Regions from separate parts of the Homo sapiens genome. Here region 2 is linked to region 1. The links come from fine-mapping of genetic effects on gene expression. A gene starts in region 1. The other region holds a variant in brackets. All regions are shown on one strand. Distances are between the middles of the regions. Region 1 holds the start of MBIP (MAP3K12 binding inhibitory protein 1). Region 2 overlaps LOC107984003 (a long non-coding RNA gene).

Region 1 (8,349 bases):
AAATCCGGATGTAAATAACGTTTTATTAGCAACACTATTAATATAGTGTTTAGAACTGTCAAATACTCCAACTAACTTAACCACAATCAATTTCTATTTTCAATATCGGGTTATCATTTCTAACAAGAAATTTACCTGTAAATATAAAATGTGTTGTTCAAGTGCACTAAAGAGCAATGCAGGCTGGAATGCCGAGAGGCTCTGGAGCTTGTTCCAATCGATTGTAATTTTCACCACATCATCTCTGAGGTCAAGCTTCAAAGGGGCAAACCAGCAACATCACAAAAATTACACGATTAAGCTCTACATATGGAATTGTCACAAAAATAAGATTTCTAGAGTAACGGGTCTATTTTGCTCTAAGTTATCAAGTTTTTAATAATACACTGAAATGCTCTACCCAGTTACCATTTCAAAAGGCCAAGAAAGCTACAGATTTTCATAAAAAAACAAAAACAAAATGACATGTCGTTCAAATTCTATTCTTAGGTCTGTGTAATGGGACCATTTTAGAGGTAAAACCATTCATGAAAGATGAAAAGATGAAGGCTCTTTTGATACTTCAATATATACAAACCTTTGGATGGAGTCCAATATAGGCTTGCCCTATTCAGAATCCTACTACTTCTAGCTCAGAGCCTTAAACAGAGGAAGTACAAGTGTTTTGTGAAAGTTTTAACATGCATCTTTCTCTTTAAGTATGTACACAAATACATATCAGAAATATATCATTATTCTGATGTCCTCCAAATCACATTTTTAGTTTTTTAACTTTTAACCGATTTTTAAACTAATTTAAAAGTCAAGATTATTCATACATATAAAGTGTAGGGATAAATGGCAACATGTTTATTTCAAATAAAAAACTATTATTTAGCAATGGAAGTCTGAAGCTGAAAAACAAAGACTTCTCCACCACAGTGAAATAAGTTGTCAGACTGGATGAAATGTCCAGATCTTTTGTAAATGCTAAGATGTGACAGCTCATTATATGGAAATTTCTATCAGTTGGTGATCTAATAGAATAAAATCATATCCAGAAAACTACCAAGAACCTGAATATAAGATTATTATCAAAATGAGTGAAAATTTTACAATGAGAGCGCCCATCTGCAGTCTTTTGAATGAATAAAAGTGAACCATCAAAAACTTTTCTAGGGACATGTGTTTACAGCATAGTATAAGACTATACTTCATAGTAGAATCAAGTTAACATAATTTATTCAAAATGAGTCATCTTTTCTACAAAATAAAGGTGTTACGTGAGTTCAAATACAGATTTTATGAGTCACAATTATAATAAAAAAGATGAATCACTGTACAAAGATCAAAAAGATATAAGGTTACCAATAAAAAGATAATATATTGAATAAATACTATGTGACAGAAATTTACTGCCCTTTGAAGATGAGAATGGAAGCATTTAAAAGTCCATATTAGACAAGTATAAAGAGATATGAAATTTCATGTAGGCTGCACTGGCAAAGATTAGAATATATTAAGATTGTACATTAAAGTTAATGCATTAATTTATATTACTTTAATTCCTATAAAGATTTTGTTAGACAACAACCTGTATTATGTATGGAAGTAACCCATTAATGTACTTTCATAGTCTTCAAGGAGATCTATAGTTGATTATAGAAAACTTAAGAATACAGCTTGGGGATAAAGCAGGCAAATCCTCAACCAAAGCAAAGTATCACATTTTCTAGAGAAAATAACTTATAGAAAAATAAGTCTTAATGTTTGGTTCATATTCTCATTTCAATTCAGCAGAATTACATAAGCTTCAAGTGCAATTAAGAATAATTAGTCTTTTAAGAAAACCACATAATGTCACAAATTAATTTTAAAACTGTCCTAATACATCTAACTATTCATTCAACAAATTCATTATTAGTAATATGAACTCTATGCATTTTGCCCTACAGAACTTGGAAGAGTAAACCACTCACTCGAAAATCTCTATTAGTCTGCTATTAATATAGACTATTTAAATATATATTTTCAGTAAAAACTTTACTAAATTAATACAAAAATCCAAGCTAAAAATAAATAATTGTTTAGCTTGGTAAGATGGACCATCCAGAGGCAAGCAAAAAGGTTAAAATTAGTAAATTTTGTGATCTTAAGTAAAAAATTATTTTTAACATTCAGTTTTATGTTTCCTACTGAGGAGATCTAATAATACAACGATACTTAGGGATGACACAGGATGAAGTTAGGCATGTTACAACATACATTCTAAATATCCTTTAAAGTGGTTGCAAAAGAAAATACTGATTTCTCTGGGGGCAATTTTATAAGTATGGAACTCTAATTTTCACTCTTAACACTTCTCAAAATATAGAGTATTATGAAAACAGTTTGTATTTAATTGATGAAACAATCATATTTTTGACACTTGTATAGGAGGTCCCTTCACTGTGTCATGGTAAAGTAACCAAATATTTACTGTGAACATTTTTGACAGGTGACATAAGTAAATTGTAATCACTTCTTTACTTGTACAGTACTTGAATGTTTAAAATTTTCTAATGAGTTTGAAAAATTCAGTATGCAAAATATTTCAAAAGAAATGTTTAAATCATTGCTCAGTATTTTTTAAAAATATTCCATCTTCTGTTAACAGGTGAGAATAAACTTTTTTCATCTTGACATTATAAAATAAATAAACTTAAGTTCCAACGTCGCCATAAAAAGTTCTCTAACTTTTAAACCATTTAAACGTCTTGGGTCTTAAGAATGGAATGTTAATAACAAAACACCCCAAGTCTTTAAAAAATGTTTTTGGTAAGTACTTGGCAAACAACTGAATTTAAAAGTTATATCTTTAAGCAGACTCCATTAATAACTGCGTCATTTCATAAAACCGTTTAACTTACAGTAATGTTCTTTGTAAGACACAACATACTACGATTTTTAAAAATAGTAACTTCTTAAAAGACTGATTCTCCATCTACTCAAGGCTTTAAAAATAATTTTCACAAATCAGACAAATGTTCTATTTTCATAGGAATTTACCATTATCTTTGACACAAATGCCTGCTTTGTCCACTTGCGCTAGTACCAGCCCCAAAACAAACTTTTACGGCTAGAAAATGGTCTATGTAAGATAGAAAATATTTCCTTTTAAAAGGCAGGTAAACAAGCATACTTTTAAATTGTTTCTCATTTAAAACTTGAATTTTACACCATGAAACGAAACAGTGACTTGATCGAAGAAGCCCATTTCAATTTAAAACCAATTTTACTATGACATTTCTGCAAAAGCGATTTATCAGCCAGTTAAACTAGTTAATAGTTAAATAACGACAGTTCTAACGCCAACAGCATTTTACGCTAGAAGTATTTTAAATGAATTCCTTTTACTTTTCTCCCCATTTGAAAGGATTATAGATGCGCAAAACAGCCCGAAGGAAAAAAGAAATAAACAAAACCAAGTAACTCATAAGAACAAATTACTCCCTCCCCCACCAAAAAAAGCTAATAAGCGCGCGCTTTTCTATAAATCTCAGGCCTACTGACCAACCAATTCCCATAAAGAGTAAGTTGGAGGAAAAAGGACCCTGAACGCTAAGCGCCTCCTAAACTCGCAGTGAAGCTTTTCCACATTCATTCTCTCCAAGCCTGCCTCTCTCGGAGCCGGGTTTTCACTTAGGCCAACCTCACCCACTCTTGGGGAGGACAGCTGCAAGGTAAACGACTCTGCAACCGGTACCGCCGTCCTCCTCACTCCGACCGAGGAGGCTGGGCCCGGGCTCCTTCCACACCTCGGCTTCGGGACCGCATCCCACACCTCTGCAGGCCTAGCTGCCCCCGGCCTCTGCTAGAGAAAAAGAATGGCGAGGAGGGACCGGATGGTTTCCATATTCCCAGTCCCTCAGGCCACCTCTCACCTGTCCAACCAGGGTGTGTAGGGAGCGAAAGATTTCGTAGAGCACCTCTCGGGAGAGGTTGGGTCTGCATCTTCGCTCCAGGTTCCTGTCACCGCTGCTCGGGCGATTAAGCTCCGTGGCAGCAGCCATGATATCTTCTCAGGCCGCCCCACCACCACCACCACCAAGATTTGCTCACAACCCCGCCCCCTCCCTTCCAGCTTTAGTCGCTTGGCGATGACGTAAGACACGGAGTCTGGTTTAGATCGGGCTTTGAGGCCCCACCCTCTCTATGTGAATGACAAGCACGTTACACCAATCAGTTGCAGCTGTGACATTGCGCCGAGGCTCTGAAGTGGGTAATTGCAGACCACAGCTAGGCTGGAATGCTGTGTTTGGGGTGGTCATTAGAGTCGTGGTCTCTTTAGCGTTATGAAGCCTACCTTGACTCCTAGGTGTTCATTGTGAATCTTGGTAAGAGGAGACATAGTTAAATTTTGTAGTTTGAGTCCAAAAAGTAAAAGTTGACATTTTAACATGGCGGTGTGGAGTGGGTCTGGAGGAAGCTTGCTGGTCAGGGATGGAGTGGTGCCCACACGTGTTTCTAAACATTGGAAAACTCACACGGAATTATCATGATTGGATAGAACATTTTCATCTCTTCAAGTTTGTTGTTGTTGTTTTGGAGACAGAGTCTCACTCTGTCGCCCAGACTGGAGTGCAGTGGCACTACCTCGGCTCACTGCAACCTCCGCCTCCCAGGTTCAAGCGGTTCTCCTGCCTCAGCCTCCTGAGTAACTGGGACTACAGTTGATATTCTCTGTTTTAACTGTAGAGACGCTTAACCCTAAAATTGTTTCAAAGAAATGAAACACTGTCAATATAATTCCAACAGGAATTTAACCTGGATAAATAATATCATGCAACCACAATCTTTGAAATTAGGACATAAAACCGAATTCAAATTTTACAAAGTATTATTTATCATAATAGCTTTATTATAACGATGTTTGTGGGGTTTTGTAATCTTTTAGTCAGACTCCGATATTTTTAAAAAGTGTTATCCAATTAAAGTATTACAATAATTTTTAGTGTTAAGCTTTATTCAAAAACACTTTAAGAAATCAACATCAGCTTAGAGATAAGGAAGGTGGGATTTAAAACTCGTAATTCTGTTAATAGTCTAATGCATTTACAGTAGAGAAAGCAAAGGTGGAAACTTGCACAATGTGTATTCTTTAGTTTTAGGGTAGACTAAATTAAAGGGAAGGACTAATGCATCAAGGAACTAAGATAAGGACGATGGGGATAAAAACTCCTTTGACCTGTCCCTAGGGAGTCTCTTAATTAGGCTTTCATTTCCAAAGACAAATGGGATCACCAGGCTTGACAGAATCTTGGGAAATCTTTTCTGTTCCCTTGTTGGCAGCAAGATATACAACTGACATTCCAGCCTATTTCTACAGGCAGAAAAATACTTCACAATGTCCAGTCTCAAATTGAGCAACCTTCTTATTCAAGCATGGTAATGGGGTAACTGTAAGTTTTTGTTTTGTACCAAATTAGCAATCAGTTTCAGATCATTTGTTTTCATTGAGGTGTTTCATATTTTTTCAAATATGGAGAACACTGATATGCAACACATTTGGGAATATGCTTTGTATATTTAAAAAATGTTGTCTTTAACAAGGTGCTGCTATTCCTTTCTTTGCCATCATTGATTTTGAATTTTCAAGTTTTACTTGTTCTTTTGAGCCTCTAATACAGAATTAACTGATGGCCATTTGATCTGTGTATTGCTTCTCCATGTAATTCTGTGATTTGATATCCAGACCTGCACTTGTATCTTAGTATTCTTTACTTAGGTACAGGTTGAGCATTCCTAATCTGAAAATTCAAAATCCAAAATGATCCAAAATTTGAAACTTTTTGAGTGCCAGTACCACAAGTGGAAAATTTCACACCTGATCCGACATAACAGGTCACAGTTAAAATGTAGTCAAAACTTTGTTTCATGCACAGAATTATTTAAAACATTATATAAAATTACCTTCAAGTTATGTGTATAAAGTATACATGAAACATAAATGAATTTTGTGTTTAGATTTGGGTCCCATCCCCAAGATAGCTTATTATATATATGCAAATATTCCAAAATCTAAAAAAAATCCGAAATCTGAGACACTTCTGGTCCCAAGTAGTTCAGATAAGGGATACTCAACCAGTAGTACTTAAAATTTGTTAACTCTTTTGTGCATTCTTTCTTCTTTCTAAGGACCTTTCTTACTCTTCTTGATGCCTATTACCTTCATTTTGGAAATTTTTCTCATTTTCTTATTTTATAATAGAAAATTCTATTTTAAATAGAAGAGTTTGTAGCCTGAAAAGATTTGGATTCCTTTGGGCCAACTCAAAATAGAAATTTGTAGATATTGTATGTGTGTATGTATGTATAACAAAAGTATAATATGCGCTATGAAATTTAGAAAGGGAATAAAGGGAATAATTTGCTCTTTATGGAAAACTAATTACAGTTTATAAAGTGGGTTGCTGAAAAATCTGCTGCCTGGCAGAAATGATTCAAAGTGTTGGTGTTCGCGTTAGCAACAGAGTTAGAAATACTGTCCAGCAGGCTTATGCCAAGAATCAATTGGGAGGATAGAGACTATAAATGAAATCTAGGCTATTTACCTTATCAACAAAAATGTCTTTTATGGTGAGCTTTAATGGCATAACTCTATTGAATAACCCAGTTCCCAGCAAAATACCTGAGGTATTAGAAGGGCTCAACTGATGTTTGTTGCATATATGATAATACAGATTTTATTTCAATGCAGAAAAAGTAAAATAAATGGTATTTGTCGTCCCTGTCTCCCCATCACCTGCTGCATAAGTCCAAGTTCTTTAGAATGACATGAAGGCTCTTATGATGTGGCCTTTGCCTAAATTTCCAGCCTCATTTTCTGCCACAAACCATCTGGTGCTTAGTGCTTCTGAAACTGCTTTTATGTCTTCAACACTTTACTATTTCTTGCCTCCATGCTTTGATTTTTACCCAGTGCCTGTTGTCTGCTTGAGAAACTCCTTTTCCATTTTCAAACTCCAGTTAGAAAATCTTTGGGGAATCCCCCCTCATAAAGAGCTTATTTTCTCCTCTGCTAAACTACTCCTACAACTTGTATATACTTCTATTATTGTAGTTATCACAGTGATACTTGAATTTATTTGACTATATCTGTCTCCTTATTGAACTATAAGCATTTATATGTTGGTGTACATAAGGCTTAGCATAGTTTCTGGCACAGAGTTAATTGCTCAGTATATGCCTGTTGAGCTGAATTTATTTGCCTTCATAAGTGAACAGATTTATAAAATGGAAAAAAGTAAACAAGTGCCTATTGTTGAAGGAAAATTGTAACATATAGACTGCTATAAACAATTTATTTTAAATAACGAAACAAGTCTGTTTATTCTCTTTTGTGGCAGCAAATTCAAAGTGTTCTAAGTTTTCTTAAGGGAGTAAATATAGCTAGCCTTCATAACCATTCTCAATAATTTTACACATACAAATTAATTGTACCTACTATATACCAGGCACTCTAATTGACATTGAGCTACAAAGATGAATCAGACAAGGACTGTTCCTCAAAGAGCTCCCGTTCTAGTGGGATAGGTAGATATATAAACAAACAACTTCATATAATGTGACAATGGCCATATTAGAGGTATGTATAAAGTAATGCAGCCAATTAGTTCCTTTGGGGAGGGGGTTGGGTCCAGAATCAGGAAAAGCTATAAACACTTAAAGTAAAATCTGAATTGATATTGATAAAAATATGAATTTGATATCAAAATATGAATTGATAAATAAGAATTCTCAAGGAATTTATAGAAAACATGAACAGCAACTTGAACATGCTTAATATGTTTAGGGAGGATACATTAAATAGAGAAGTATGGCTAAGCAAGCATTTCCTAAAGTGTATTTTATGGAATGCTAGTCTATAATGTGCTAATTTTAGCAAAACAGTTCATGATCAAGTAAATTGGGATAATAATTGGCAAATTGTATTGCCATTTCATGCAATGGCTCACAACATTACTTCCTATTAGCAAGGAGTTTAGCAGTGCAGTCAAGCCCAAGGACATAACTAAACCAATCTCAAACTCCCATTTTTGAAGATTTACTTACTGGTATAAATAAATCTCATACCAATTTCTGTATCAGTTGAGGTTTAATCAGGAAACAGAAGCCATACATGTTATCTGAACAGAGAAAGTTTACTATAAACATTGTTAATTATGGTAAGTGGTTAATTAACTGAAAAGGTAATAAAACAAAGTATCACAGAGGTAGTACATTCAGGAAGCAGCTAATCTCTAGGGCTGGGGGAAACAAAAGAAAGAGGAATTATTAAAATTGTGGAATTTAGAAGAACAGCCCTGTGGAGTCCCTCAGAGAAGAGGG
Region 2 (8,349 bases), 38 kb before region 1:
TCATTCCACATAATATACTTTAGGTCATTACATAGAGCACAGTTAAAATAAATGAAATAATATTGAGAAAAAGACTATAATCAGGATTAAACTGAAATGTAACATATTTAAGAATCCTTAGAAACTATTTGATGTAATTTAAAAAAATATTTTGAAAGTTATTGTGTTTTCCAAATTCAGAACATGGATTAATTCTACAGGCTCATGTAATAATAAAAATCATGGAATAGAGAATTATTATTCTCCACATTATCCTAAAGTAGCCACAAAACTGAAAATCAAATCAAGCATCCAAAATGTGTTCATGCACCAAAGATGATTTTTGATACAAGTATCATTTTCAATGTCAAAACGCATGCTCTTAAAACATTCATTGGATAGTTATAACAAATGATCTTTTTATCTTAGGAACAGTTTCTCTTTTGAGTATTCTCTTTTATTTTCTTAGTTGTCACTTGCAGCATTAACTAGCATTTTCCACCAGTTGGACTTAAACAATAATGTTTTTGTTTACGCTGTGTTCTAGGAGAGATTTTTAGCATAAATGAATTACAAAGCCTGCGAATTTGGGACATGGTTTTTCCTTTATTCATGAAAGCGGAGGTATTATACCAGTAAAATATGCTTTCAGGATTGCTGAGGATATCACATTCTTTTAATAGACAACAGTAATTTTCTCCAACTACATTATGTCTCTGTGTCAGTCTAATAATTACATGCTATCAGTTTTGTGTCATTTCCTCTGGGATTCCCTGTCTGCCATGCACCACTTTTAACTGTTTCACTTTATTCAACATACTCTCTAATTGCCATATCAAAGGTTTACTTGAACTCATTTTTGTGTATAATGCGTTTGACCATAAAATCATGCATTTGCAGTTGAGTATGCATTTCCATTAAACTTATAGCTTTAAATTTCACTTAGGAGGAAAGCCTTATATTTTAATGCAGGTTTTGAATGCAGATTTACTACAAAATAAGTGAATAATAATGCCAGGTTATTTTGGAAAGTGTTCTTTTATGCAATCACTGCATTCAATACAATCACAAAATGGCTGCCCAACAGGTGGTCCTTTCAGAGTGTTAAGCCACAACAATCGGAACAAAAAGGACACCAGAATCTAATGTTCTCAGAATTTAAAAAGCTGTTCACTTTCTTTTGTTAATTTTCAGATTTAGCCATGTTCATTATTGTTGAGCCCAAATGCAGGACATTCTTTTTTGACATTTTGCCCTAAATAGACACTGACCGAGGCTGACTCTCCAACTAGCTGTTTTGTCACAGGCGAGTGGAAACTAGTCATGAACAATGAGTGTGCATTCTTGCTTCTTAAATGGCTAAGGAACGAACCAGTTTTGACATGCTGCAAATCCGGCAAAGTCTGGGTTAACAAAAGTGTGTTTGACAAAAGATGAAGTTTCTTTTCCTATATTTTCCCCAGAAGTAAGTATTTAATTATGTCCTAACACATTTTCTTATTTTTTGCCTAGAGGATTAGATGCCTTAGTGACAAGCTCATTCACTCTCTGAGGTTATCATGTGGCATTATGAACCATACCATTCAAATGCCACCTTTGGAAGAAACTATTCTTTAAGCAATAATTATTCGTTTAAGGGGAAAAGGTTTAAAAAATATATAACTTTTTGTAGTGTTACCATTATATTACAGTACTAGCATTTTATAAGCTAACGTTGTTTATGGAGCTATCAGAAAATTGATAAATGTAGCAATGTATTTTTCTAAGCAAAGATCAGGCTACATTAAATATAAGAGGAAAAACATTTCAAAGACCTTGAATTTATAAATAGATGAATAAAAGAAGGAAACAAAGAAAGTAACCTTTATGCAGTACTTAAATGTGGGACTTAAAGTATACTTTAGAGTTAGTTGTTAAATGCCCTATCCATCATTGTAAAATCTGTCACCTTTTAAATTGAGGTTTTAAAAATATCAGTATGTACAGCATGGCATCATTTATATTTCTGTAAGTTAAATAGTCCTTTGCTTATGGAAAGAGTCTATTAATTGGTCTTTGTGAGAAGGGTGTAAATACAGATTTTATGATAAGAATACTTTGAAGTAATGTATATAAAATAAATTCCTGTTCATCTGCAATAAATAAGTAGGAAAGTTAAAATAACTGAAGTGGTTTTGTCTGGGTGGCGTCATAGAAAGAGGGAAGCAATACAAATTTACATTTAAGGGTTTCATTAACAATGCAATTTAGGGAATGGCATGGGCTGCTCTAAATTCAGCTGTCACCTCTACCTTCTGCATCAGAAATACTGTTCAAAGAATACTGATGTTCAGAATGGTGAATCTGAGGCATTTGGAATTCTGACTTCACAATAATCAAAAGTAAAATTGCATTATATGTGGCAGATTTTTTAAAAACCTTTTTACGTGACTGTGTCTTAAGCCTTGATATTCAGTAATGTGTGTTTTATAAGTGGAACTTTCAGTTTCCAAGACATAGAGTCTTTAAAAAACAGTTTATTGTGATGCTCATAGCTTGTATTAGACTGGCCCAGGCAACTTTCATTCTTCAAGGATTTTAAACCCTTTTTGTTTAGAGAGTTTCAGCCTAATCACCTAAAATTCTATCTGATTTTTAAAGTAAATCTAAGTTTCTTCATGTAAATTTGGATTGGCCTCAAAGAAACTCTAGTAAGAAAGAGACCAGGAGGGTAATGGCCAGGTCAGGAAATAGCGTACACCATGCTATTCACTTCCACACACATTCCATTGGCCAGAACTCAGTTACATGGTTCCTCTCAAACTGCAAGGGCATCTGGGAAGTGTAGTCTTCTCTTGCGCCTAGAGGAAAAAAGATAGTACTGGTGAGACCCTAACAGATCCAACCACAGTGAGGTCAAATATTAGAGGTCATTTGCTTTTCCTCTCACTTAGGCATACCCACTTCCAAGATGGACTTACTTGGGCACACATCTTAAGTGTCTTTGTGACACCTCTGGTCTGTGTCATAGGCTGAGTTGATCATTAGCACTTGGGGGAAAAAAATTAAAATAATTTTCCAGTGCTTCCAAAGCATTTTAACTGATCAGGATTTTAGGGAAACAGTTTTAATTAGCTTCTGGTGGCATAAAGAAAACAATGTATCTCTATTTGTCTATTAAGCAATGGCACTTAAATTTGTTTAGATCTATGCAAGTGTCAAATCTAAACACAGAACAAAATATAATTTTGTGTAGCAAATTATAATCACAATCTATTCCTTAAAAAAGAACAAAAACAGAATCAATGCTATCAGTGTGCTATTTGAGTAGATGATGGCTCTCTCTGGGTTCTCAAATGTGTATCTATCTATTTACTTATTTTTAGCAGATGATTTTTTTTAATCCTCTGATTCAAAAGCGTGAGGAGAGATATACAAGTCTTCAATGTAAATGTTAACATCTAGTAGCATTGGAGATGACTGTCTTTCTATTATGCTTTCTATTATGCTCTTGGAGAGTTTGCATTATGTTGTAAAACTGGAAAATGGTGCCATAATTAATTTGGGTAGCTAGTCCAGCCACATAGACAGAAGCGATTCACCTGCACTTATGAAACTGATTGGTAGAGAGTATCTATTTTGCTGCTGAGACCAAATAAATTTTTCATGATATTGTTATGCTAAGTTGAACATCACACCTTTTATATTTTCCCCATTTGGCCTTGAATAAACATCAGTACAATAATAATCTAAATGGTTTGCAAGTGTCATGAGCAGTTGCCCATCTGCTTTGGACAGATTTATACAAATCAATTACATGGACATAAAAGCCAAACAAATAGAGGCAAATCAACAGAAATGAAATGGATGAACTCTTAAGTTTTGTTCATCCTATGTAACCCCTTCAGTAACCAAAGATGGATAAATTACACTCATTAACCTTGAAAAATTAGATGATTTGTACATAATATGTTTGAAACAATACCTATCTATTCCTAGTTATGATGAGTGTTTTGTCCATGATATAGTACAGTTTAATTGAAGATCTACACAAGGGATTGTTTTGATATGGTTTGTTTCTTCCTAGAGAGATTATTCCATGAAATTAGCTTGTATTTGTTTTCCACTCTGTAACCCACCTGAAAACTCCGGTTGCTCAGTTACGCTTAGGTAAAAGTGAACATTGACTGTCAGGAAGGAAGTGTGTACATATTTAGTTTTAAGATGATTTCTTAGAACGAACTGAACCTGTGGACAGGGGCTTACCCTGAGAGAGACCAAAGGAAACACTGTTTAAAATTTCCACTGGGCGTTTGTCAAGAAAGTCTTATCAAATTATGTATTATTGCCATGAAAAATTTATCAGTGAAGAGAATGTGCATGTTGTGAAAAAGGTAAGCAAAATCAGAAGCATGTAGCTTTTTAGGGAATGTTCTTATTCCATAAAAGTATGACTTAATGAGATTACTGTTTTAACCATGAGACTGTTAGGGAGATCATTGCTGGGAAGCCCTGAGGGAGGAATTTCCAGTCCTGGTTCTCTGTTTCTGTTAAGTGGAGATACTTTAGTATCTATGTGTTGGTTGTCTCCTTCCTTGCTAAGGAAGCCTCTGGTTTACAGGATCTGGGCTGAAAATCCCAGTAGCCATCCTCTCAGAGTTGCTTTGGAGAAAACAAAATAGAAAAGAATTGCTTTGGAGGAAGCCATTTTTCTGCTACCC[G/A]TTCTCCAAACTGAGATGATGCATGGAGAAACAGTCTTGTATTACAGAAAGAGAATAAGAATATTATGTTGGCATATGAAGAATGATTTTAATCCTTGACTGGTTAAACTGAAATAGACTGCGTACATTGATAGCCATATCTAGGATACCTCATCAGATGTCACCAGCTTGGACAAAAGATTCTTTGAGTCCCCCTTTTGTGCTGTAAATCTACTGTAGAAAATAACCACAGAAAAGTTATTTTCTTTTCATTGCTATCTTTTCATCTCTATCTTTTGTCCTTATTTTTCTGTGTTTCATGCTCATTTTTCTTGAGTACTTCCTCTGTGGTAGGCCCTCTGCTAAGAGCTTTGGTTTTTCATAGTCTTCCTGGCCTTCTTCCTCTAACACTTTCTTCTGAAGTGAGATGTAATGTAAATCTAGCATATTCCAAGCCTTAAATTTTTAGTTTGTTCTGACAATATGTCTGGGCAATTTTTCTAATTTTCATTTGCCGTATTTGTGTGTGTGTGTGTATGTGTGTGCGTGTGTGTGTTTTACCAGCACCTGCACACATCTTGATTTCTTAATCACTCAGGGTTGTTGCTTACCATTGTTATGTTTTCAAAGCTCTTCATGCATCAGGATTAATCCAGAGGACTTAAGCTTGGCACTGGGGGAGTTAAAACACTTGAAGAGTAGTGTAAATTCTTAATTAATACAGAAAGAAGAATCACTTATAATTTATTAAAAATATCCAATGCTGATCCAAATAATATTTTGGAGTAAATGGGTATGTAGTGAACAGTCTTCCATGGTTCCTCATTCACTGATTCTTCCTGCTGGTGTGAGGGCTGTTCAAAATAGCACTTCACTTTTTGGTTTATTTATTAAGATCCTGCACTCAACTATAAAAAATTAGCCTCCTAGAGGTGAATCACTTCCTACACTGCAAAGGAGAAATCTGCTCCTATATAGCAAAGAAGAAAACCCTGCATACATTCCTGAAACAGACAATAAAGAAAAGATCAAATACGTTTATTGCACAGCCCATTCCAAGTGTGAAATGGAGCAGATGAATGTTTAAGTAATGTGGACTGAGTGTCTGAAAGAGTGATCTTGTTACTACCCATTAGACAAGGGTAATGTCCAAGATGGGGCATGATGGGTTTTTTGGTGAACTTTTAAACTCAAAGCTCTTTAATAATTGAAAAATGGAATAGCTTGAAGAAACGTGTCTTCCCTTATGTGGAATATTATGAAAGCTAATAGCATAACTGCACTGGAAGGGACACTGAGGGAGCTTGAGTCAAGCCCTGCGTCAGGTATGCTAAAATTGCCCTGCTGTGAGTCAAAGTCTCTACTTTAATTATCTGCAAAATGCTCTGGCAGAGGGAATGTTTCTCTCCCCTCCTTCTGTTCTCATCTGGTGTACTGGCTGCTGGCTAGTTTATTAAATCAACATTTTCAAAGACTTCCCCCTTCCATCTCTAGGTAGCTAATGCCAGTTAGATTTTAAGTCTCTCAGCAAAAATTTATTCTTCAATAAACACTGCCTCTGGGACAAAGTTGTACACAAGCCTTAGTGGCCAGGAAGGAGCTAAGAGTATTGGTATGTTTTTGTCTTGCCTCTCTCTTCCTTCTCTTCCACCTTTTTCTTTGGTACCTTGCTAATAATAAGTAGAGAGGCATAAACATCCCGTCATACTTGGAAGACAAAAGCTCACACACAGCACATAGCATATCCCATGGGAAGGGCATATATTACCTTCATCACCACATTGCGCAACTAAGCAATTTTTTTGCCTGTTCAGATACAACTAGTGAAAAACATGTCAAATAAGCAGTAGTTTGGGGACTGACACCTAATCCCTACTTCTCATAACACCTCAACAATTATATAAGAAACATCGATTGTACACTCTATGTACACAACACTCTGTGGTATGTTGGATATGCAGCCTCTGTCCTCTTTACTTAAATAGATTTACTTGCTTCCTGCCTAGCTGGCCTTGTTGAGGCTGATAACCCTGGGCCAGCGCCTTCCCCACCACACTCTCCCCATCTCAGCTCAGCAGTTCAGTGCTCCATTCCCTGGAGTTTTTGGTAGGGGAGTACCCAAAATGAATGAAGTGAGTGGGGTAAAGACTCAACCACACATATTAATTCAAGATCCCTACTGGGCAGGAGGGAGGCTGCTTTAAAGGAGACAGTTCCCATGCTCTTCACATCTCAATATACGGGTGACCATTGTCTGCCCAACTAACCCTGGATTAGCCTGTGTCTTAGAAAGGGCATGCAGTCAGGGTGATGGTATCTCCCTCCAAAGAGTTTGGGGGCATAAACCTGAGTGAAGGTTTCTTTTGGGGACGGGATACCTTCTGTTCCCTATAGCAAGGAGTGTTATCCTGCCAGGCAGCCATATCTACTAAAGGCAGCTGGCTTTCAGAGGATATGATGCTGATCAAGCCTCACGCGCAAATGTCAAATACCAGGGCATGTGAGAGGGGTTGTGTAAAGTAAGTTAGTAAGTAGGCTTCTTTTCTGTAGCAGTTCATCTTTAATATTAGTACCTCTGCAAGAAGACCATCTCTTGAATTCTGCAGTTCAATGGCAATTCTGTTACGGTTGTACTTGTAATGTGCTGAAAAATTCAAAGTTGATCATCTCTATATCTCTTCATTCAAGAAGCCAGTTGCCTTTTTGCTCTTTTCAAGAGGGTAATTCCTCATGCTTTTATTTTGCCGATTAATTTTCCCCTTTGGCCTATACATTTTCCCCTTTATTCTGTTTTTACTCAAGGTTATCTCAGCCTTTCTCCTACTCATCTGCTGCCTAACTTAGCTGTTCTGTATATGTATCTGCCATTTGTTACAGAGGCAAGAACTCGGGCTTTGGAGAGGATGAGGGCAGGCTACCCAGCCCTGTCTCTTACAGAGGACTTCTCACCTTTCTGAGTCTCAAATTCCTGTCTGCAAATAGAGATAATAATACAGTAAGCTCTTTGCTTATTGTAAGGATTAAATGAGATAATGCATGAGAAGTCCTCATACACTACTCAAAATTGTTAGTTCCTGCCAGTTCTTTCTTCCTTCTTCTCCATTTTTGCCTCTTATCTATTAGTAAAAATTCACAGAATTGAATAAAATTGCAGATGTTTGCTATACAGATAATTACCTTAAAAACTATATTTAAACAGGCCATAATAAGTTATTTAAAAATGGGTTTGTGGCTTCTTCAATGCCCTTTTCTGAAATTTTTGCTTTGAGGCCTAGAGGTTAAGACCCTCTTTACAAAAATAACTTATTAACCAAATGTAATGTACCCGAGCATAGTGATCCATTCTGCACACTGTAGCCAGAAGCCAGAGTGATTTTTCTAACGTGCCACTCTGATCGGGCCATCCACCTGCTCTTCCCACCGGCTCCTTAAGCCAGTGATTCAGTGATTTGCAAGGCTTTTCAGATCTGGACCGTTCTTCACTCTCAAGGGTCCCTCTCACACTCTTCCCACCCCATCGTATGACACAGTGCTTCATGCATGACGGCTAAACAATGACAATAAGTTCAATGAATAAATGAAGACAAGGTGGTTACATTTTCTATAGCTTTGACTGAATGACAGAGTTCAACAGATGGCCTTTCTGCTGCAGAAAAAAGTTTATTAATTTTAAATATAATAATTACCTGTG

Evidence for each region. PIP is the estimated chance that this variant, and not a neighbour inherited with it, causes the effect.
Region 2: its variant is fine-mapped to the expression of MBIP in whole blood (TOPMed, PIP above 0.99).

The regions. Positions count from the first base shown.
Region 1 is chr14:36,316,558-36,324,906 of GRCh38, forward strand. MBIP (MAP3K12 binding inhibitory protein 1) reads right to left here and starts at 4,080. Exons shown (of 9, transcript NM_016586.3): 1 at 3,903-4,080; 2 at 136-255. The coding sequence starts at 4,031. RefSeq lists enhancers at 3,769-4,028, 4,429-4,478.
Region 2 is chr14:36,278,737-36,287,085 of GRCh38, forward strand. All of the region lies in intron 2 of LOC107984003 (a long non-coding RNA gene), which reads left to right. Among named protein-coding and RNA genes, the nearest start is that of MBIP, 38 kb to the right of the region's middle. RefSeq lists an enhancer at 752-1,400. The variant G/A (reference allele first, on the strand shown) is at 4,680.